6 linked regions of the Homo sapiens genome follow. The protein of the gene in region 5 purifies or fractionates together with the protein of the main gene of each other region. This does not show direct contact. Each region holds a gene or a part of one and is shown on either strand. Other genes may lie near its edges. The genes, in order: NCBP3, PLIN3, ARIH1, PRIM2, BTF3L4 and OXSR1.

The links.
Region 1: the proteins of BTF3L4 (region 5) and NCBP3 purify together in Homo sapiens (pull-down; one large-scale study listed by IntAct). This does not show direct contact.
Region 2: the proteins of BTF3L4 (region 5) and PLIN3 fractionate together in Homo sapiens (co-fractionation; one large-scale study listed by BioGRID). This does not show direct contact.
Region 3: the proteins of BTF3L4 (region 5) and ARIH1 fractionate together in Homo sapiens (co-fractionation; one large-scale study listed by BioGRID). This does not show direct contact.
Region 4: the proteins of BTF3L4 (region 5) and PRIM2 purify together in Homo sapiens (co-immunoprecipitation; 2 studies listed by BioGRID and IntAct, with this or other methods). This does not show direct contact.
Region 6: the proteins of BTF3L4 (region 5) and OXSR1 fractionate together in Homo sapiens (co-fractionation; one large-scale study listed by BioGRID). This does not show direct contact.

Annotation. Positions count from the first base shown.
Region 1 is NC_000017.11:3,839,747-3,843,246, reverse strand, and holds part of NCBP3 (nuclear cap-binding protein subunit 3), read left to right. Parts: intron 1-95; coding exon 96-161; intron 162-3,041; coding exon 3,042-3,147; intron 3,148-3,500. UniProt on the Homo sapiens protein: Associates with NCBP1/CBP80 to form an alternative cap-binding complex (CBC) which plays a key role in mRNA export. NCBP3 serves as adapter protein linking the capped RNAs (m7GpppG-capped RNA) to NCBP1/CBP80.
Region 2 is NC_000019.10:4,854,168-4,857,667, reverse strand, and holds part of PLIN3 (perilipin-3), read left to right. Parts: intron 1-3,500. UniProt on the Homo sapiens protein: Structural component of lipid droplets, which is required for the formation and maintenance of lipid storage droplets. Required for the transport of mannose 6-phosphate receptors (MPR) from endosomes to the trans-Golgi network.
Region 3 is NC_000015.10:72,578,830-72,582,329, reverse strand, and holds part of ARIH1 (E3 ubiquitin-protein ligase ARIH1), read right to left. Parts: intron 1,600-3,500; coding exon 1,339-1,599; intron 256-1,338; coding exon 143-255; intron 1-142. UniProt on the Homo sapiens protein: E3 ubiquitin-protein ligase, which catalyzes ubiquitination of target proteins together with ubiquitin-conjugating enzyme E2 UBE2L3.
Region 4 is NC_000006.12:57,380,130-57,383,629, forward strand, and holds part of PRIM2 (DNA primase large subunit), read left to right. Parts: intron 1-1,901; coding exon 1,902-2,039; intron 2,040-3,500. UniProt on the Homo sapiens protein: Regulatory subunit of the DNA primase complex and component of the DNA polymerase alpha complex (also known as the alpha DNA polymerase-primase complex) which play an essential role in the initiation of DNA synthesis.
Region 5 is NC_000001.11:52,083,795-52,087,294, forward strand, and holds part of BTF3L4 (transcription factor BTF3 homolog 4), read left to right. Parts: intron 1-2,317; coding exon 2,318-2,377; intron 2,378-2,917; coding exon 2,918-2,964; 3' UTR 2,965-3,500.
Region 6 is NC_000003.12:38,224,537-38,228,036, reverse strand, and holds part of OXSR1 (serine/threonine-protein kinase OSR1), read right to left. Parts: intron 3,467-3,500; coding exon 3,333-3,466; intron 1-3,332. UniProt on the Homo sapiens protein: Effector serine/threonine-protein kinase component of the WNK-SPAK/OSR1 kinase cascade, which is involved in various processes, such as ion transport, response to hypertonic stress and blood pressure.

The sequences.
Region 1 (3,500 bases), on a different chromosome or scaffold from region 5:
AAAGGAAAAAAGAACCTGCAGATGTCAGGCCGACTTTTATTATAGGTTTTTCCTCAATTGCTGTCTGAATTTCTCACCCTTCCCCTTTGTGTTAGGACACGAGCAGAAGATATGAAAACAAGGCTGGCAGCTTCATCACTGGAATTGATGTCACCTCCAAGGTAAGACAGGCTATGATTTATTTATTCAGCTTGATAAGCAAGTGAACTTAATGAATTTGATCCCTAGGACATAACAGTAAATATTTCCTCTTTTATTTTGTTGCTGGATTTAAATTTTTTTTCTAAAAAAAATTGTGTTATTGGCCAGGCACGCTGGCTCATGCCTGTAATCCTAGCATTTTGAGAGGCCAAGCAAGTGGATCGTTTAAGCCCAGGAGTTCGAGACCAGCCTGGGCAACATAGTGAGACCCGTCTCTACGAAAGATACAAAAATTAGTCGGGTGTGGTAGCACAGGTCTGTAGTCCCAACTACTCAAGAGGCTGAGGTGGGAGGATCGCTGGAGCCTGAGAGGTTGAGGCTGCACTGAGCTGAAATCGTGCCACTGCACTCCAGTGGGGGCAACAAAAAAAAATTTTGTGTTATACAACGATGTCTTCATGCATCCTGAAACGGTACAGGCAGCATTTGTGTGTTCTTACAGCCATGAAAGGATAAAATCACTCTACTTAGATACCTGTGTTGAACCGTTTCCAAGAAAATGTCCAAGACGGGGGATGCTTTTTTAAATGGTATGTCCATTTCTAAAAAAATGTGTACTGTTTCCACTTGAAATGAAACAAAACATGAAAAGTGCCTGGCAGATGGTAGGCCCCCCATATTTAGGTGGAGTCTCGCTCCGTTGCCCAGGCTGGAGTGCAGTGGTGCGATCTCGGCTCACTGCAGCCTCCACCTCCTGGGTTCCAGCGATTCTTCTGCCTCAGCCTCCTGAGTAGGTAGGACTACAGGCGCCCGCCACCACGCCTGGCTAATTTTTGTAATTTTAGTAGAGACAGGGTTTCATTGTATTGGTCAGGCTGGTCTTGAATTCCTGACTTCAGGTGATCCACCTGCCTCAGCCTCCCGAAGTGCTGGGATTCCAGGTGTAAGCCACCGTGTCGGCATAATAGGCCCTTAATAAGACTATTGCCTTGTATCTGATGATTGCTATTACCAGATTACCACCTTCATTGTAACACCTCATAGAGTCAAGCCTATTATTTTCCTTATATGTAGTCAATACATGTAAGTTGCTTTAATCAGTGATGTTCCGTTTTAGACATTTTTTCTGATTTTAATGTTTACAGTTAAGTTTGGAACAGAATTTTGTATTACATTTCTGAATAATAGTATATATTGCTGTATTGAATACATAAAAGCAAAAATAAAAATATATTTCGTGCCTTCCTTTTTATAGTGTTTTTTTTTTTTTTTTGAGACAGAGTCTCACTCTGTCACCCAGGCTGGAGTTCAGGGGTGCGATCACGGCTCACTGCAACCTCTGCCTCCTGGATTCAATTGATCCCTCTGCCTCAGCCTCCCGAGTAGCTGGGACTACAGGTGGATGCTATCATGCCCAGCTAACCTTTTTATGGTTTATCTGTGTCTCTTGTGTTTCCAATCACTTAAAGGCCCCCCATCCCCGCAAAAAAAAAAAAAAAAAAAGAGAGAGAATTGGTCATCTTTTAGACAAGAAAAGAGAATAAAGTGAAAATCTTTTCTTACTGTAATTGAAAAAGTAAACTATTCATAATCTTACACTGTTTGCCATTATATGACACAGGTATATGGGAAAAGGGTGATAGTCTCAGAGTTAGTACTTTGTTTCTAAAGGAAGGTAAATTGTTGTTTGTACTAGGAAGACTTCAGTGAAGAAAATGAGCGTTAACTATTGGGAAAGAACAGAAGTGTTGCAACTTTACCAATCCCCACAAGCTCTCTGTAGTCAGACCTTCAATTAGTGTGGCAAAGTCAATATACAATTAGTGAAGGGGACTGGGCGCGGTGGCTCACATCTGTAATCCTGGCACTTTGGGAGGCCGAGGCAGGCAGATCACGAGGTCAAGAGATCGAGACCATCCTGGCCAACATGGTGAAACCCCGTCTCTACTAAAAATACAAAAATTAGCTGGGCGTGGTGGTGTGCACCTGCAGTCCCAGCTACTCAGGAGGCTAAGGCAGGAGAATCTCTTGAACCCGGGAGGCGGAGGTTGCTGTGAGCTGAGATCGTGGCAGCCTGGCGACAGAGTGAGAGTCCGTCTCAAAAACAAAAACAAACAAAACCAATTAGTGAAGGGTTCCTAAGAGCCATCAGAAACCCACAGTTGGACCTGGGTTTATTTTAGCTCTTAGAAGAAACTTACAAAGCTGATTATTTTTTCAGTAAAGTGTCAATGGTTCTTATCACTTAGAGATGAAAACTGGTGATTCCGTGGACACGAGGCTGGAAGAGGAGGGAGAGTTTCTTTGCTTCGGTGTTATTTTTAAACAGACTAGCTTTAGGGAGTGGACTGCTCAGGCAGTTATAATGTGGAAGAGCGTGATAGGTGTGATTACCATTGCTCAGACAATGTGAAGTGGTTGTAGGTGGGCTCCTAGAAATAGCACTGGAATCAGATCTGCTTGCTTAATAGCTGAAGTATCTCCAGCAAACCTTTTTGCTTTTTTGTGCCTCCATTTCTGCACCTGGAAAATTGGGATGTTGAAATTGTTTAGTTGTAATTTGTTGGCATAATTGATAATAACAAATGAAGTGTCATATAACTTTATAAACTTTAAAGGACTATTCATTCAGTCAGCAGATACTCACTGAGTTCCTACTATGTCCCAGGCACAGTGATAGGCTGTGTTATGTCGGAGATGGTTGCAAATTACAGCGATATTAACATATCCCCCCAGTCATTGAGTGTGAATATCCAGGTCTCTGCCAGACTGATTCAAGGTGTAGTGTTGCTTATTTCTTCTTTTTTAGTTCAGGTTTGTCACTGATGCATCATGATGCATGTGTGATTTAACTCGCCTTCTCCATATTTTACTACTTTCACTTTTTCTGTACTTTCTAGGAAGCAATTGAAAAGAAAGAGCAGCGAGCCAAGCGCTTCCATTTTCGATCGGAAGTAAATCTTGCCCAAAGAAATGTAGCCTTGGACCGAGACATGATGAAGAAAGGTACAGGGTGTTTTGTGGGAAATTTGTCCACATTTCCCCAGAGAGTGCCTTTTCCCTGCCATCACCTCATGCTTCTGGCCTTGCCTTGCGTGTCCACTCCTTATCCAAGCACTCTTGTGAGAAGGGACCTGTGAAGTCTCCATTTCTGAGGTCACCTGTTTAAAGTTCAGATGCTGTCAGCTGGCTCAGATGTTAGAGCTGGGAAATAAGAGATTGTCTTTTCTGAGGAGGCCCAGAAAAAGTTACCAGTTAGTGGCAGAGCTGAGATTCGAACCTGTGCTTCTAAGGACCCTTACTCATTTTCTCCTTTTATCGTAGAGGTGTTAACTTTTCTTTGCCTTTAAACGTAGTGA
Region 2 (3,500 bases), on a different chromosome or scaffold from region 5:
TGGCAATGCTGACCTGGGGTTAACACCTGAAGGCCCAGAACAGCACATGGCTTGTAGCAAATGTTGGCTCTTAACATTAAAAAAAAAAATTTTTTTTTTGAGACAGGTTCTCACTCTGTCACCCAGGGTGGGGTGCAGTAGTGTGATCATGGCTCAACTGCAGCCTTGAACTCCTGGGCTCAAGTGATCCTCCCATCTCAGCTTCCCAAGTAGCTGGGACCACAGGCATGCACCACCATGCCTGGCTATTTTTAATTTTTTGTAGAGACGAGTTTTCACCATGTTGCCCAGGCTGTTCTCAGACTCCTGGGCTCAACAGATCCTCCTGCCTCAGCCTCCTGAGTAGCTGGGACTAGGTGCATCCACCACGCCTGGCTAATTTTTGTACTTTTTGTCAAGACGGAGTCTCGCCATATTGCCCAGGCCGGTCTCCAACTCTTGGGCTCAAGCAATCCTCCTGCCTCAGCCCCACAAAGTGCTAGAATTATAGGAGTGTGCCACTGTGCCCTACCTCAGTTTCCCTTAATCACCGCTTTTTAAAGACCCTGTCTCTAAATACAGCCACATTCTTACCCCTGGGGATCAGGACTTCAACATAAGAATTTGGGGTTGAGGGGGCCATAATTCAACCTATAACAGCCTGGGATGAAAAAATGAGGCACAGACCAGGCGTGGTGGCTCACGCCTTACTCCCAGCACTTTGGGAGGCCGAAGCGTGCAGATCACTTGAGATCAGGAGTACGAGACCAGCCTGGCCAACATGGTGAAACCCTGTGTCTACTAAAAATTCAAAAATCAGCCAGGCGTGATGGTGAGTTCCTATAATCTCAGCTACTCGGGAGGCTGAGGCACGAGTATCACTTGAACCTGGGAGGCAAGAGGTTGCAGTGAGCCGAGATCGTGCCACCACGCTCCAGCCTGGGCAACAGAGCAAGGCTCTGTCTCAAAAAAAAAAAAAAAAACACCCTCCTTCAGATAAGTGTGAGGCTTAATCGGTTATTGTTTGTCTCCCCAGCTGGGACCAGGGCACAGGCTGCCTGCTTTGTGGCTGTGTCCAGTGCCCAGCAGGCAGCCTGGCACAGGGTAGATGCTTATTTTTTTAGTTTTTTGAGACAGAGTGTTGCTCTTGTTGCCCAGGCTGGAGTGCAATGGTGCGATCTCGGCTCACTGCAACCTCCGCCTCTCGGGCTCAAGCGATTCTCCTGCCTCAGCCTCCCGAGTAGCTGGGATTACAGGCATGCACCACCATGCCTGGGTAATTTTATCTTTTTAGTAGAGATGGGGTTTCTCCATGTTGGTCAGGCTGGTCTCGAACTCCCAACCTCAGGTGATCTGCCTGCCTCGGCCTCCCAAAGTGCTGGGATTACAGGTGTGAGCCACCGCGCCCTGCAGATAGATGCTTATTAAGTATTCAGGTGCTCCATGTCCGCTTCAGCCCAGTGGTTACAGAAGGGCCACCCTCGGGTACCACCTGCTTGTGTCTGGGTCTGTAGCATCAGAAATAGGTGATCCCTGGGTTGGAGGCAGGACAAGCCAGCCGCATCCCAGCATCCTTGGACTTTCCCTGAGACCACCTGCAGGGACAGGCAGCTTATTCATCCACTTGCTATTGAGTGCCTACTGTATGCCGGGGAGCTGTGCTGTCCCATCATGGTTAGACTTCCTCACCTCCCATTTATGCAGAAATGGCCTTAGCTGGGAAACAGCAGAGCGGTTGTCAACTTGCATTTTTTTTTTTTTTTTGAGACAAGGTCTTGCTCTGTAGCCCAAGCTAGAGTGCAGTGGCGTGATCTTGGCTCACTACAGCCTTGACCTCCTAGACTTAGGCAATCCTCCCAGCTCTCAGCCTCCTGAGAAGCTGGGACTACAGGTGTGCACCACCACACCTGACTAATTTTTTAATTTTTTGTAGGAATGGGGTCTTGCTATATTGCCCAGGCTGGTCTCAAACTCCCAGGCTAGCCAGGCACGGTGGCTCACGCCTGTAATCCCAGCACTTTGGGAGGCCGAGGCGGGCGGATCACGAGATCAGAACAACAGAGCGAGACTCCATCTCAGAAACAAAACAAAAAACAAACTCCTGGGCTCAAGCAATCCTCCTGCCTGCCTTGGCTTCCCAAAGTGCTGGGATTATAGTTGTGAGCCACTATGCCCAGCCATGCCTACACCTTATCAGCAAAGGCCAATAGTGGGCTTGGCTGAGGGGGGATGGAAACTGCTGAGCTTACAGGAAGATGGGAAACGTCAACCAGGAGCCCCCGTCTCAGGGCCAAGCCCTTGCTTCCCTTTCTCTCCCACTGATAGCGTAGGAGGCCAACAGTCTTTCTGTTTATAGAAGGGATAAGCTCAGGGTGAATTCTTCAAGGTCACTGAACAGAGCAGCAGCTGGGAGCTTTTTTTTTTTTTTTTTTTTTTTTTCAGATGGAGTCTCGTTCTGTTGCCCAGGCTGGAATGCAGTGGCGTGATCTCAGCCCACTGCAACCTCTGCCTCCTGGGTTCAAGTGATCCTCCTGCCTCAGCCTCCCAAGTAGCTGGGATTATAGGCGCCCATCACTACGCCCAGCAAATTTTTGTATTTTTAGTAGAGATGGGGTTTCACCATGTTGGCCAGGCTGGTCTCGAACTCCTGACCTCAGGTGATCCAGCTGCCTTGGCCTCCCAAAGTGCTGGGATTATAGGCGTGAGTCACCGTGCCCGGCCAATTTTTGTATTTTTTGTAGAGGTGAGGTCTTACTATGTTGCCCAGGCTGTTCTCACACTTCTGGGCCCAAGCGATCCTCCCACCTCAGCCTCCCAAAGTGCCGGGATGACAGGTGTGAGCCACCGTGCCTGGCCTGCTGTGAGCTCTTGACTTTTTGAGAGGTGCAATGCTCTCTCAATTCTGGGCCCTATGAGTTTTTTCCCCCTTTGTGAAGAGGTAACTTTCCCCAGGTTCTGGGGGACGGTGGTGTTGTCAGAGCTAGATTTTAATCCGGGCCAGTGTGAGAACGTGCGTGTTCACTGAGTAGTGGGGCTGTTAGAACCTGACTCTCATCGGGGGCGTTGGCTCATGCTGGCTCACACAGTGAAACCCCGTCTCTACTAAAAATACAAAAAATTAGCCGGCCGTGGCAGTGCACGCCTGTAGTCCCAGCTGCTGGGGAGGCTGAGGCAGGAGAACCGCTTGAACCTGGGAGGTGGAGGTTGCGGTGAGCCGAGATAGTGCCACTGCACTCCAGCCTGGGTGACAAGAGCAAAAACTCTGTAAAAAAAAACAAAAACAAAAACAAAAAACTTGACTCTCACACCCTCTTCCCCCACAAAAAGATGAACTCTCATGAGTACAAGAGGACTGAGTCTTCAGGGAAGCACCAACTTGGGTAGGAATGGGGCAGGTGTGGTTTTCAACTTTGCGGAGAGCCCTCTGCATAGAGATCTGTCTAAAGACTTAGCTTCAGCTGGACACAGTGGCTCATGTCGGTCATCCCAGCACTTTGGGAGGCCAAAGCAGGAGGACTGCT
Region 3 (3,500 bases), on a different chromosome or scaffold from region 5:
CAACGGACAGAAGCAATCTGTGAGAAACATGGCAAAAGCTCAGTTGCTGGATATGCTAAACCCAGTTTCACTATCACTGAACTTTACCAGTAAGGATCATCACTGGCAGAAAGTTTTATTCAACAGCTTAAAAAAAAATTACCTGTACTTGTCTTGTACTTTCTGCTTTATATCCTGCAGAGAATCTTGGGAAATATCTCGTTCAAGGTAGCCCGAGAGCACCTCTGTGGCATTCTCTAGATCTGCTTGGTTATTCTGTAAGAAGAATGAAAGTAAATTTTGGCTTCAAAATAAAGCTAAAAGATAAACCATTTTCACTGTTTTGTTGACTACAGACTGCTCTCAACACTCATTCTGTAACTTTCATAGGTGGTTTAACTGCACCTGTAAAGCTCTATGGGCTTTCATCTCTAATAACTTGTTTGTTCTTTTCCAGAACAATTTTTTAAATGTTAAAAGAACGAAAGATTTCACCCATTACTTTTGGAAGAATACTGAAGACCATTTGAAAGGATTTAAAATGTCTTTTGGAATCTTCTCGTTCTGAGAGCTGCTCTTTGCTGAAAACTCAAAGGTAAATGAGAAAAAATAGAAACCTATTATTGCTTACATCTGGCTATACTTATTTCTTATAAGAAAACACTGTATGGAAGATTCAAATTGTATCATCCTTTACCACTATGGCTAGTTTTGTACCTGTTACCCAACTGAAGTCCCATCTGCTAGTCAGTCTTATTGTCTAGTCATATACAGATATCAATGTTTTATGCATCAATTTTAAATGAACATCTTTACTTGAGAAAACCTTTACTGCTAAAAGCTGGCTTTTTAGTCATTATTTCTCCACTAAAGATAACCACCACATTAACTTCTAATATTGCAGGGTTAGTTTAGCCTGAATAAAGGCTTTTATTGAGAACTTATGATGTTCCAGGTGCCGTATAGCAATTAACACAAATTGTCTCACATAAAACACAAATTGTCTCACTTAAACCTCATAACAACCTAGAAAGGTACTATCCTCACTTTAAAATGGACAAATAAGAGGTTAAGGAATTTGCTCCAAATCAACAGAGCTAAAACATAATGAAGTAAAGATTAAAATCTAGGGCTGACTCCAGAACCTGCATACCTAATCACTAGCTGGCTAAACCACATCGATCTGAATATAATTTAGGACAAGAAATAGAAATTTCTTGTATCTTTGTAATAAATACATTCGTCTACCTACATGTTCTGAACAAACAAGAACCCTGAAAACTCTGTATCTTATATATGAAAGATCAGGTAGACCTATGATACAAGGTGGGCTTTTTCCTCACCCAGAACTACTCCTACCTCAAAGATAATGGACTGGTTATTCTTTTTGAGGTAGAAAGCGAAGACATAAGTGTACATGAGTGTGGCACGACACTGGCAGAGGACATCAACTGCCTTCTTCAGGAACTGCACCTCAATCCAGGACATGTTGTGCTGCTGCATCTCCTCCATTTTCTGTTTCACCTGAGCATATAGTTTGTGCTCAAAGCGCAGGCTCTGCATGTGGTTCATATAGCGATTACAGTAGAACAGGTACCTCTGCAGGGCTGCCCTAGATCGCTGTCCCATTAAGAAAAATTGGGTGATATAATTATAACACATAAACTGTACATAAAAGCTGATTATCAAATTAAAACCATAATGAAGTCTCACTTCACACCTGTTAGAATGGTTTTTATCAAAAAGATGAAAGATAAGTCTTGGCAAAGATAAAGAAAGAAGGAGACTCTTGATACACTGTTGATGGGAATGTAAATTAGTATAGCCATTATGGAAAATGGTATGGGGAGGTTCCTTAAAAAACTGAAAACAAAACCACCACAGAATCCAGCAATCCCACTACTGTGTATATATGAAAAGGAATTGAAATCAGTATGTCAAAGGTATCTCTGTACTCTCACATTCACTACAGCATTATTCACAATAGCCAAGACATGGAATCCATGTAAAGTGTCCATCAATGGATGAACACAGAAAGAAAACGTCATGTATGTACACACACACACGAGTACTCAGCCTCAAAAAAGGAATTCTGTTGTGACAACATGGATGAACCTGGAGGACATTACACTAAGTGAAATAAGCCAGGCACAGAAAAGAAATACTACATGATCTCGCTTATATGTAGAAACTAAAAAAGTTGAACTCACAGACATACAGAGTATAATGACGGTTACCAGAGGCTTGCGGGGATAGAGGGGTAGGAAGGGAGGGAATGGGGAGTTGGTGACCAAAGAGTACAAAGTTTCAGATAGACTGGATGAGTAAGTTTTGAGATTTATTGCACAACAGGGTGAATATAGTCAATAATAATATATATTTCAAAATAAGTATCATTTCAAATGTCTCACCATAAAAATGTTAAGGCAAGGCAATACAACAATTAGTTTGATTTAATCATTGCATTGTTTACATATTTCAAAACATTCCACTGTACTCCATAAATGTGTATAATTATGATTTGTCCATTAAAAATATTAATAATTTAAAAAGCTGATTTACTGATGAAACAGTACTGTGATCTAGGCTAAAATCAGGAATAGACATCTACTGCTACTTTTGTTATTTAATACTCTTGAAAAATGTCCTATTAATTGTACTTTCCAATACAGTAGCCACAAGCCACACCTGACTACTTAAAATTCAATTTAAGAAACTAAAAATTCAGTTCCTCATCGCTCAATAGTCACATGTGCTTAGTGACTACCAAATTAGACACTGGTGATAAAGAACATTTACATCATTACAAAAATGTTCTACTGGATGGCACTGTTCTACAGTATGCCACAAGATGTAAAACAAGCAAAAAGCAGAGATATTTTTAAGTAGAAAACTACAGTGGCAACTACATACCATGTAACTCCTGATATAATACAATAGAAAGTATAATCAATTAAGTATTCTGGGCTCCCCCCCCAACCACTGAATCTGAATTTGATCAAGTTTCTTGAATTAATCACCAGTGCAGAAAATGCAGGGATAGAAGAACCTATTAAATGACACCATGCAGTTGCAACCAGCAAAATCCATAATGTGGGAAACTCTACAGGACAACACGATCTAGTTTCTTCAACAAAGAAAAAAAAGCAAGGAGGGGGGAAGAGAAGGAACAACAGGTAGAGGAGACTCAAGAGATATCAATTAAATCCAATTTGTGGACCTATGTGGATCCCAATTTGAACCAACTATAAAAGAAAATTTAAGATAGGCTGGGTGTGGTGGCTCATGCCTGTAATCCTAGCACTTTGGGAGGCTGAGGCGGGTGGATTGCCTGAGCTCAGGAGTTTGAGCCAGCCTGGGCAACACAGTGAAACCCTGTATCTACTAAAATACAAAAAATTAGCTGGGCGTGGTGGCATGTGCCTGTAATCCCATCTACTTGGGAGGCTGAGGCAGGAGAATTGCCGAGTTGCACCACTGCACTCCAGCCTTGGGGAGAGAACGAGACTCTACCTCTGAAA
Region 4 (3,500 bases), on a different chromosome or scaffold from region 5:
TCATTGCACTAATGGTGTGCCAATGTTCTCTCCTGGGCTGTCTCCTTCCACGGACGCATTCCCAACCCTGCTTGGGCTCTGACCTCCCATTACAGGCTGTTTTCCTAATGGAATACCCTCCTTGCATTGTTTGGGTTCTTACACCCTGCACTGGGCTATCCCCTGCCAGGAAACCCTCATCACCCATTTGGCCCAACACTCTGTTTGGATTGCTGCCTTGCGTGGAAGCCCCCTTTCGCTTCTCTTGACCTCTGACATCGTGGTGTCTTGCCTCATGGTCTCTCTGTGATTCCACTGGGCTCTGACATTGTAAGCCTACGTTTTTTCCTATGGGAATGCCCTCCTTAACCTACTCAGATTCCATCATCCTGTGCTTGGCCACCTCAGTTTCCCCTCCCCACTCAGTTCAGATAACTACGTCACATGAACCCTTCCAGAAGGGGAAGAGGGAAGAGTTTAAATTCATTTTACAATTTGATAACTGCAACCCCACAATTTCCTTTGAAAAGAATGTGCTAATTATTATGAGTGAGTGCCAGTAGTTTAAAGTCCTGCCCCATTCCAGCTTCTTCGTTTCGACTGTTGGGCCATCATTCAGTCAGCCTTTCAAGCCTAGAGTGTGGTGATCAATATTTATTTCTCTTACACCACACATTTCCAGTTACTCTGCCTTCACATCATCTTTTGCTTCTACTTGGGCATTTTTGTTTCCACTGTGACCACCTTAATAAGCTAGAATCATGAAATACTATGGCTAAAGAATCCCTAAGGGTCAGTTAGCCTGTGTCTTCCTCCCCTCTCTCAGCTTTACAGATCTGGCTGCTGAGATTTAGAGGCATTCATTAAATTCACCAAATAAGTCTAGTCAGTATCAGAGCTTGGACTAGAACTCATGTTTCTTCCCTATATTATTGCAGTAAACCCTCTTACCTGCTCATCTGATATGTCCTATGTAAGCTACCTATTTGGTGCAGTATCACACAATTTACCCTGTAGGTCTGTTTGACTTTCCGTGTGTGCCCATGAGGGCAGGGACTGTGTTGCAGTTGTAGAAATAGGTAAATTAATTGAAAGTTGTTAAAAAGCACATGATCTGTTTATAGTGTGAGATGTCGTTGGATATACAGAAAATTGTATGCATTTATATTTAATTCTTCCTTAAAACTTGAATGAATAGGCAATTTGGGAATCATTTTTCACCTAATTTTTTAACCTCGTTTTTTAAAAAAGAAAAATTCTATTGGAGAGTAAGAATGATTTTTACAGTTTACTAATATCATACTTCGCTCATCTCTTAGAATTTTAAGATTGTTCATAGGGTTTAAAAATCTAAGATTTTTAAAAATAAATTCTTGGGGCAAATACTTCTTTTAATAGCAAAACTGAATGCTTATTATTTCCATTTCTTAGTACTGAGATTAGCTTTTTCAGTATATTTCTCTGGAGTGAGAATGGAAACATACATGAAGAAATTGGAATTTACTTACAAGTAATTTTCAGCTCTGAATATGTTGTTTACAAATTAGGATTCTCTCTGATGCAGAATACAAAGTGGGATATGTGAGGTGAATGCAACATGTGTAGAAGTCTTGAGTTAAGAGTTTGAAATCCTGGGGATTATGTTTTGTAAATTCAGAGGTTAAGGAATAAAAGTAAGCATTCCAACTTGGCCTTTTAGTGTTACTATTTTTCAAAACATCAACTCTGAAACGAACATATTTTTGTACTGCCACTGTTTGCTAATGCTGTTGAGTTTTAAGGAGGATAAATTAATCATTTTGATATTCTTTTGGCTCTGCTAGGACTAATGAATTTCTTTGTTTATACTTTATACATATGAAGACTTAGGATTTCTTAATGACAGGTGCTGACTTATTTTGCCTGTTTTACTCTTAATTCAGATCCCTTTTGCTGATGCTCTGGATTTGTTTCGAGGAAGGAAAGTCTATTTGGAAGATGGCTTTGCTTACGTACCACTTAAGGACATTGTGGCAATCATCCTGAATGAATTTAGAGCCAAACTGTCCAAGGCTTTGGCAGTGAGTATTTTACTTGATTTCTGTATCTGACATGTTCACACTTTCAGTTATATACCCCTGGTAGTTTTATTCTGTGTTTCTCTAGGAAATAAGTTAATTCAGTTTTCATAATGATATTCAGATTACATATGATGTTGTACTGTTAATCCCAAAATTCCTAGGTTTTTATTTGTTACTATCCATAGTTGGTTTTTAAGTTTTTTTTCTTGATCCTACTAATACCAATGCTGAGTGATTAATTTTGTGAGTAACCTCTGTGGGTTTCTTCATGGTCATGTCTTTTTTCCTTAGAAATAGACTTCGTATATGGCTCTTAACAATTAGTGTGGCCTGTGGTAGATATAACTCCTAGATTTCTGTTCTGAATTAGTATTTGGTATCAGTAGAAGACAATATAGAAGAAAATCTTAAGTACTAACACTGTGATATGCTAGTGCTGCAATGAGTAGCTCCATACTGGGTGAATTTGGAGGTAGCTGTGTTGAACAAATGACATGATCAGTGATTTTTAAGTAGTTTGTTGGAAGTGTGACTCTTAAGTGGTGATATCTTAAAACTATACACATTTTTATATGTAAAACACATATTTTACAGTTGTTGTCTCTTAATCTGAGTCAGTTTTTAATACTTTTTTTGTACCTAATGCAGAAGAAGACTTCAAAGGTTTGTGACATGGCTGTTTTAAACTGTACTGATTATAGTGTAAGCATATGCCAAGCTTTCCTTCTCAGTTAAAAATTGTAGTATTTTCTGATATAAATAAATTTTTATTGACTCTCTGGGGTTACCTAAATATGTATAATTTAGCTATGTCAGCACTTGGGAAGACTAAAATACTAACTCTGTGTTTATTAAATGAAGGAATTTATGAGAACACCTAGCATAACAGGTATTTAGTAACTGTTAATATTCTTTCTCCATTCCTAATCCTGTTATTTCTTTATCCTCATGAAAGTTGATGCTTTTAAATTTTTTCTTTACTTGTCTGTCACTACCCTAGATTATATTCTAGTTACAGCTAAGAATAGTGTCTTTCACCACTGTGGAAGACACTGATACTTGTCTACTGTTTGGCCATTGCTCTTTTATTATTCTTAGTTTTATTCACCCATATTCTCTCTGTTGACATTTTAGACCACACTTCTTTGTGTGAAATAGACAAATATTTTCCAGCATATTGGATAGTTTTAGCTGTCATCTATTAAATGCTGGTGGTGGACCCCAGTCTCCATGACAACCAAAAATATCACCGTGCATTTCAGAAAACTTCTGGCATGTTAATGCTACTATTAATCTGATCATAGTCATTTCCTTCTTACCAAATTTTTAATTTATGCCTGTGACAATGTCATTGTGGCTAAAAAGTATGAGTTCTTTGGGGGCTCCTGAAAAAAGTTTTTCTTGCTAAAAAAAAAAAAAAAAAAAGGCATGTGGGATGAAGTAGTCTTTTTTTCCCCCCTC
Region 5 (3,500 bases):
AGATTGCCTGAGGTCAGGAGTTCGAGACCAGCCTGACCGACATGGTGAAACCTCGTCTGTACTAAAAATACAAAAATTAGCCAGGCATGGTAGCAGGCGCCTATAATCCCAGCTACTCGGGAGGCTGAGGCAGGAGAATTGCTTGAACCCGGGAGGCAGAGGTTGCAGTGAGCTGAGATCATGCCATTGCACTCTAGCCTGGGCAACAAGAGGGAAACTCCGTCTCAAAAAAAAAAAAAAAGAATATTCGGAAACATTTTGGTAGTAATAATAGTAAGTTGAGAAGTAATTACCTAAAAGGGTAGTGCCCAGATCTTCAGGCCATAATTTTATTTTATTTTATTTCATTTTATTTATTTTTGAGACATAAAGTCTTGCTCTGTCTCCCAGGCTGAAGTGCAGTGGTGCGATCTCAGGTCACAACAACCTCCACCTTGTGGATTCAAGCAATTTTCATGCCTCAGCCTCCCGAGTAGCAGGGACTACAGGTGGTGTGCACCACTGCACCCAGTTAATTTTTGTATTTTTAGTATACACAGGGTTTCGCCATGGTGGCCAGGCTGGTCTTGAGCTCCTGGCCTCAAGTGATCCACCTACCTACCGCCTCCCAATGTGCTAGGATTACAGGCGTGAGCTACCATGCTTGGCCCATCATTTTAAATAGTTAATTTGATATTCACTGCTAATTAATGACAATCAGAAAATACTGTTATATGGCTGGGCGCAGTGGCTCACTCCTGTAATACCAGCACTTTGTGATGCTGAGGAGGGAGTATTTCTTGAGGCCAGGAGCTCAAGACCAGCCTGGGCAACATGGTGAGACCCTATCTGTACAAAAAATACAAAAATTAGCCAGGTGTGATAGCACGTGCCTGTAGTCATAGCTACTCAGGAGGCTGATGCAGGAGGATCACTTGAGCCCAGGACTTCAAGTCTGCAGTGAGCTATGGAAAGCCACTGTACTTCAACCTGGGTGACAGAGGGGGGAGACCCTGTCTCTAAAAAAAAAAAAAGAAAAAAGAAAATAATGTTGTCAGACATCTATGTTTTTGTTAAATATTGATTGCCCTATAAATGTGGCAACCGTAAGTTCTGAATTTCCAAGATAGTCCTGGTTTCAAATGTGTCATGTTGCCCCTAAAAATGAAAAAATCTAGTATTGTAGTGCCCATACTACCTAGCTAGATACTTTCTTACACCAAAAGAAATGAAAAAAATCTTTTTTTTTTTTTTTTTTTTTTTTTGAGACAGAGTCTTGCTCTGTTGCCCAGGCTGGAGTGCAGTGGCATGATCTTGGCTCACTGCAACCTCCACCTGCCGGGTACAAGCAATTATCTGCCTCAGCCTCCCAAGTTAGCTGGGATTACAGGCGCCCGCCACTGCGCCTGGCTAATTTTTATATTTTTAGTAGAGACAGGGTTTCACCGTCTTGGCCCGGCTGGTCTTAAACTCCTGACCTCGTGATCCACCTGCCTCAGCCTCCCAAAGTGCTGGGATTACAAGCATGAGCCACTGTGCCCAGCTTTGTTGTTGTTGTTGTTGTTGTTGTTGCTTGGTTTTTTTTGTTTGTTTGTTTTTTTGTTTTGTTTTTTTTTTGAGACAGAGTCTGACTCTGTCGCCCAGGATGGAGTGCAGTGGATTACAGGTGTGAACCACCATACCTGGCTGAAAAAAACCTTAATATTAATTTTTTATTTGGAGAATATGGCCACTGTAAAGTCTTTTTACTCAGTGATCAGTTATTCCACTTTGCATATAAATTTTATCTTTGTAGGCCGTGTGTGGTGGCTTATGTCGGTAATCCCAGCACTTTGGGAGGCCAAGGCAGGTGGATCCCTTGAGGTCAGGAGTTCGAGACCAGCCTGGCCAACATGGTGAAACCCCATCTCTACTAAAAATACAAAAATTAGCTGGGTATGGTGGTGTTTGCCTGTAATCTCAGCTACTTGGGAGGCAGGGAGAATTGCTTGAACTTGGGAGGTGGAGACTGTAGTGAGCCAAGATCGCATCACTACACTCCAGCCTGGTCAACAGAGTGAGACCCTGTCTCAAAAAATGAATAAATAAAAATAAATAAAATAAATTTCATCTTTGTCACACATGGAAATTGCCAGCTGTGTTATCAGTGTATTAACTGATTAAAGTTTTATTTTTAATGTTACTCAAGCAAAAAATATGAATGGCATTTTAGATTGACAATATTTAGCTATTTCTGAGCAACTCTGTGTGATTTATACAGGAAAAAAGGGATAAACATTATAAGTTTTCTTTAAGGTCTTTGTTCTCAATGACTAATATTAAAATAAACTTTTTGTAGTCTTGGACAGTAAAGCACCAAAACCAGAAGACATTGATGAGGAAGATGATGATGTTCCAGGTAAGTGACATTTCCTTAGACTTAAGATTTTAAGCATCCTGTTTATCTCCTTTCAGTCATTGCATAGATAACTTTTAGGTTTGTGTTGATTGTAAGCTCATGAATTTAAATTGATTCACAATAATGTGGATAGGATCTAATGAAAAACAACGTAAGCACCCACCTTAGAACCTAGAATCAGAAATTGTCACACAAAGCTCTGCTGCCTGGATTTATTAAATTGAAATCACTGTGATTATAAATTTGCATAGCTATTGTTATAACATTTCTGTATGAATTATAATTGACATATGAAAATGCTATTCACCTCAGTAATTTGCATAGACAAAAGATGAACATTTCCTTAGGATTACTGTCCTAAGCAAATAATTAAATCATTGTTAGTAAAATGCCACCAGTTCATTTCTGCCTCCTTATGTTTTCAGGCTAATTCTGGTTGTACTAATTTTATTTTTTCGGGGGTTAGAAGTTAGGAGTTCCATTTACCTCTTTTTCCTTTTTTGTATTCTTTGATTCATATACTTTGTTTTTCTTTTTCAGATCTTGTAGAAAATTTTGATGAGGCATCAAAGAATGAAGCTAACTAAAAGTTTGGTTTTTGGAAGCTGGCATGGACTAGATTTAACAAATCAGCTATGTGGTTCCAAAGTTTTACAGACATGGAGAACATCACCTGTTACTAGTTCAGTAATATAAATATTTTGTATATTAATAATGCTGTTTGTTCAGCATTTTTCGGTCATTTGATTTTGCATTTTGCACTTCCTCCCAGGATATTTTTTTGGTCAAAATATGAAGTATTGGTGCAGTTTGAGGGTGTTTTGGTTTTTGATTCCTGGTTTTTTTGTTTTTTGTTTGGGGTATTTTTGGTGTATGTATGTTTATGTATGTGTGTGGGTATGTGTGTATACAGTGGAGAGCAAATTGGAAAACAGTTCTATTTATCCTCCTCCCTCCCCAGTAGAAATAAAAAAAATCTTTACATTTGTTACTTTTCTTTTCCCCCCGTAAGACACAGAATTAATGGAAAGTGAGTATCTTGGATTTCAAATCTGAAGAGATTTTTACCATTAGTGGTTTGATTTTAATTTGCTTGGTTAACTATCATATTTTTCATACACTT
Region 6 (3,500 bases), on a different chromosome or scaffold from region 5:
CTGTACCATCAAAGTTTGTGTAAGTACACTCCACGATGTTCAAACAATGACAAAACTGCCTAATACACATATTACAGAATGTATCCTCATCATTTTAAGTGACACATGACTGCATTTTCTCTGAGCATTTCACTAAACGCTGGCCTCAACTGTTGTGTTATTGGGGAAGTAGCTGTCAAGTCTACCTGCTAATCCTCAGTAGGTAATCTGTTCCCCGAGGTTGCCTGTAGGAGTTTGTCTTTGCTTCGTGTCCAGTAGTTTCACAGCAACTTGTACAAGTGGAAGAAGGGGGACACTGCTTGGAATTCTGGGGGGATGGTTCTTTACTCTGAGAATATAGGTCTTTCATCAACTCTCGAAAATTCTCAGCCATTATTTCTTTGAATATCGCTTCTCCTATACTCTCTCTAGTCTTTCCTGGTAAGTTCATGTATATGTATACGTACATTTGTGTGTGTGTGTGTGTGTGTGTGTGTGTGTGTGTGTGTGTGGATGTGCATACACACAAACATACTGAACCTTCTCAGTCTACCCTCCAAATGTTAATATTTCTTTCATATTCCCTCTTTGATCTTTCTGTGCCACATTCTGAGCAATTTCCTCAGTATAGTGTAGTCTGATTAAAACAGGTTAACTCTAGTCCAATTGCATGGGTCAGAATTCTGATTCCACCATTTATTAGCTGTGTGACTTTGGAGAAGGTTACTTAACCTCTCTGTGATTCAGTTTCTTCATTTGTAAAATAAAGAAAATAACAGTGCTATCCTCAAAGGATTACTGTGAGAATTAAACAATATATGTTAAGTGTTTACCACAGTGCCTGGTACTTGATGAGTAAATAATCTCTTTTTTGTTTTATTGGTTGTTCTGTTTAACCAGTCCATTGTGCGTGTTATTTTAACTTAGCAATGTTCTAAACAAAGTTTAATTTTGGTTTACAAACTGGAATAGATTTTCTATAGCTTCCAGTTTTCTTAAAGTTTTATAATAATTTTAGACTTACAGAAGAGCTGCAAAGCTAGTACAGAGTTCCTACATGCCATTCACCACCTTCTGCTATTGTGAACCTTTTACATAACCACAGTATAATAATAAAGAAATCAACTAAAATATCAACACTGGTACAATACTATTAACTAAACTACAGACTTCATTCCATTTCTCCAGTTTTTCCACTAATGTCCTTTTTCTGTCCCAGGATCTAGTATAGGATACTCTTGCTTTCCGTCTTCACGTCTTCTTAATTTCCTCCAATCTGTGACAGTTTCTTAGTCTCTCTTCCTTGACAGTTTTGAAGAGTGCTGGTCAGGTATCTTGCTGCATATTCCTCGATTTGGGTTTGTCTGATGTTTTCTCATTATAGACCGAAGTTACGGATTTGGAGGAAGAATACCTCACAGGTTATATATATGCCCTTCTCATTGCACCATATCAAGAGGCACATATCAGTCTTATCAATGTATTATTAATAGTGATGTTAACCTTGGTCATTGGGTAGAGGAGGTGCATTGTAAAGTTGCTATTTTTCCTTTTTCATACTCTACTCATCAGAAGTGAGTCAACAAGTCCAGCTCACACTCATGGAAAGTTTTAAACATTAATCACTGTATTTTTCATTTCTGGCATTGCTATTTGGTTCTTCTGTCATAGTCACAGTCTTCTCTTGTGGGTCTGATTTCTTCTAATTTTAATTATTTTCAATATACTTAATTTTGTATCTTTTCAGATTTTCACTGCATTACCTAAATCTTCTGGAGCACTAATCCTTCTGCTTGTGTCTGCTAACTAGTTCATAATGCATTGTTTCACTGTGTGTTTCTTAATTTTGGATTGTGACCTTATTACAGTGGGGCATTATGTTCAGGAATCCAATGGGAGCTAGAGTTTGAAAGTGTTCTTCCAGTGCAGCTCTGTGACTACTTCCGTCAAAAATAAAAACTGATTTGGTAAAGCTTTTTTAACTTTCTAATCCTGTGGGTTCCTGGATAACATAGGGAGTATAGACTCTAAACCTGTGGAATGTCCAGGTTGAAGGGCTTGATTATTCAGGAGAGGTTTTTGTTGTCTCTTGGTGATGACAATTTTTATTCTTGTCTATCCTTTTACTAAGGATACTGACATCTGAAGTTCTTAGCTTTAAGAAGAATCTCAGTTCAAACTCCCCACTGGGTGGACCCAAGATCTCACTTCCAGTTTTCACATGGGAGTTATAAATCCAAATCAGTAGGTTACCAGAATGAATAGTGACCCACTGAAAACAGCCATGGGATTAGTTCACAATATTTCTTCTTTAACTTAGGGCTTCCTCATTATTTCTGGCATCTGAGAATCTTTAAGTTGGATAGATTTTATCTGGCATTTCTAGGTATTTGTAACAGGATAATTTTGTTCCTTTAACCAACTAATTTGATAAAAGAAAAGTGTTTCCTGTCTTTTTTAACTGTTTACTCAGAAACAGAAAAAAAAAAATTATAAAAACACAGGTATAAATTTTGCTACCTGTTTTTCTTACCCTTTCCAATATTTCCAACAATAAATTCTGAAACCCTATTACATACACTAGAGATGTGATCAAGAACATCAAAGTCTTTCCCTTTTAATGATCTTTAGAGAAACAAAAATTAAAGAACTCAGTGCTAAGAAGCTGAGTGGAATATATATGTGAAACAGACAGATAAGATTCAGAAGGAACAGAGCCCTAAGTTAGGAATCAGGACTTTGAGATTCAAGTCCTACTCCTATGACTAAGTATCAAGTGACCTCAAAAATAAAAGGTTGTACTCAATGATCCCCAACATTCTACGATTCTGCTTAATTCATGAAGTTACACATATCGGATGTTCTTATTTATTTGCTCACTTGTCATTCAATCTGTCTAACATTGATAAGGAAGCTATTTGAATTTTTGGTCCACTTACTAAAATATCTTTCTAACATGGAAATAAGTATGATTATTACACTAAATATAAATTTTCTATGTGTCTTTCCTTTATTAATACTGTAAATGGCATTAAGACATTCATTTATAAATTTTAAATGCAAATTAAAAACAAATCTCTCCACTAACTTGGCATTTATTAATACAGAATTCACAATGTACAACTTTGTAAGAAATTAACAAGGAAAAAGCTGAACTATTTAGGGTACACTGTATACTACAAAGAAGGCAGAAATCAATTCATTTCCAATCCAGTATAATGGTCTCTGTATACTTTTTTAAAGTTTATATTTAGTTCTTTTGAAAATAATTTCCTGTACATATGAGTATGTGATTCTTAGACTTCTCACAATGTTTTATTAGAGAGAAAAGTAGACTTTTTCTCATATTTTACCTTTTTTCTGGATCTTTTTGAAGGCACAATGAAATCATTTTTCTAAATGATTTTCCATATTTTTTCAGCATTTCTTTATCTTGAACACCAGTTTCCAAAGAAGGAGGATCGTTCTGCAGTGTCAGCATTAAAACCTGCAAGAATTTTCAATATACTATAAACTTGTGA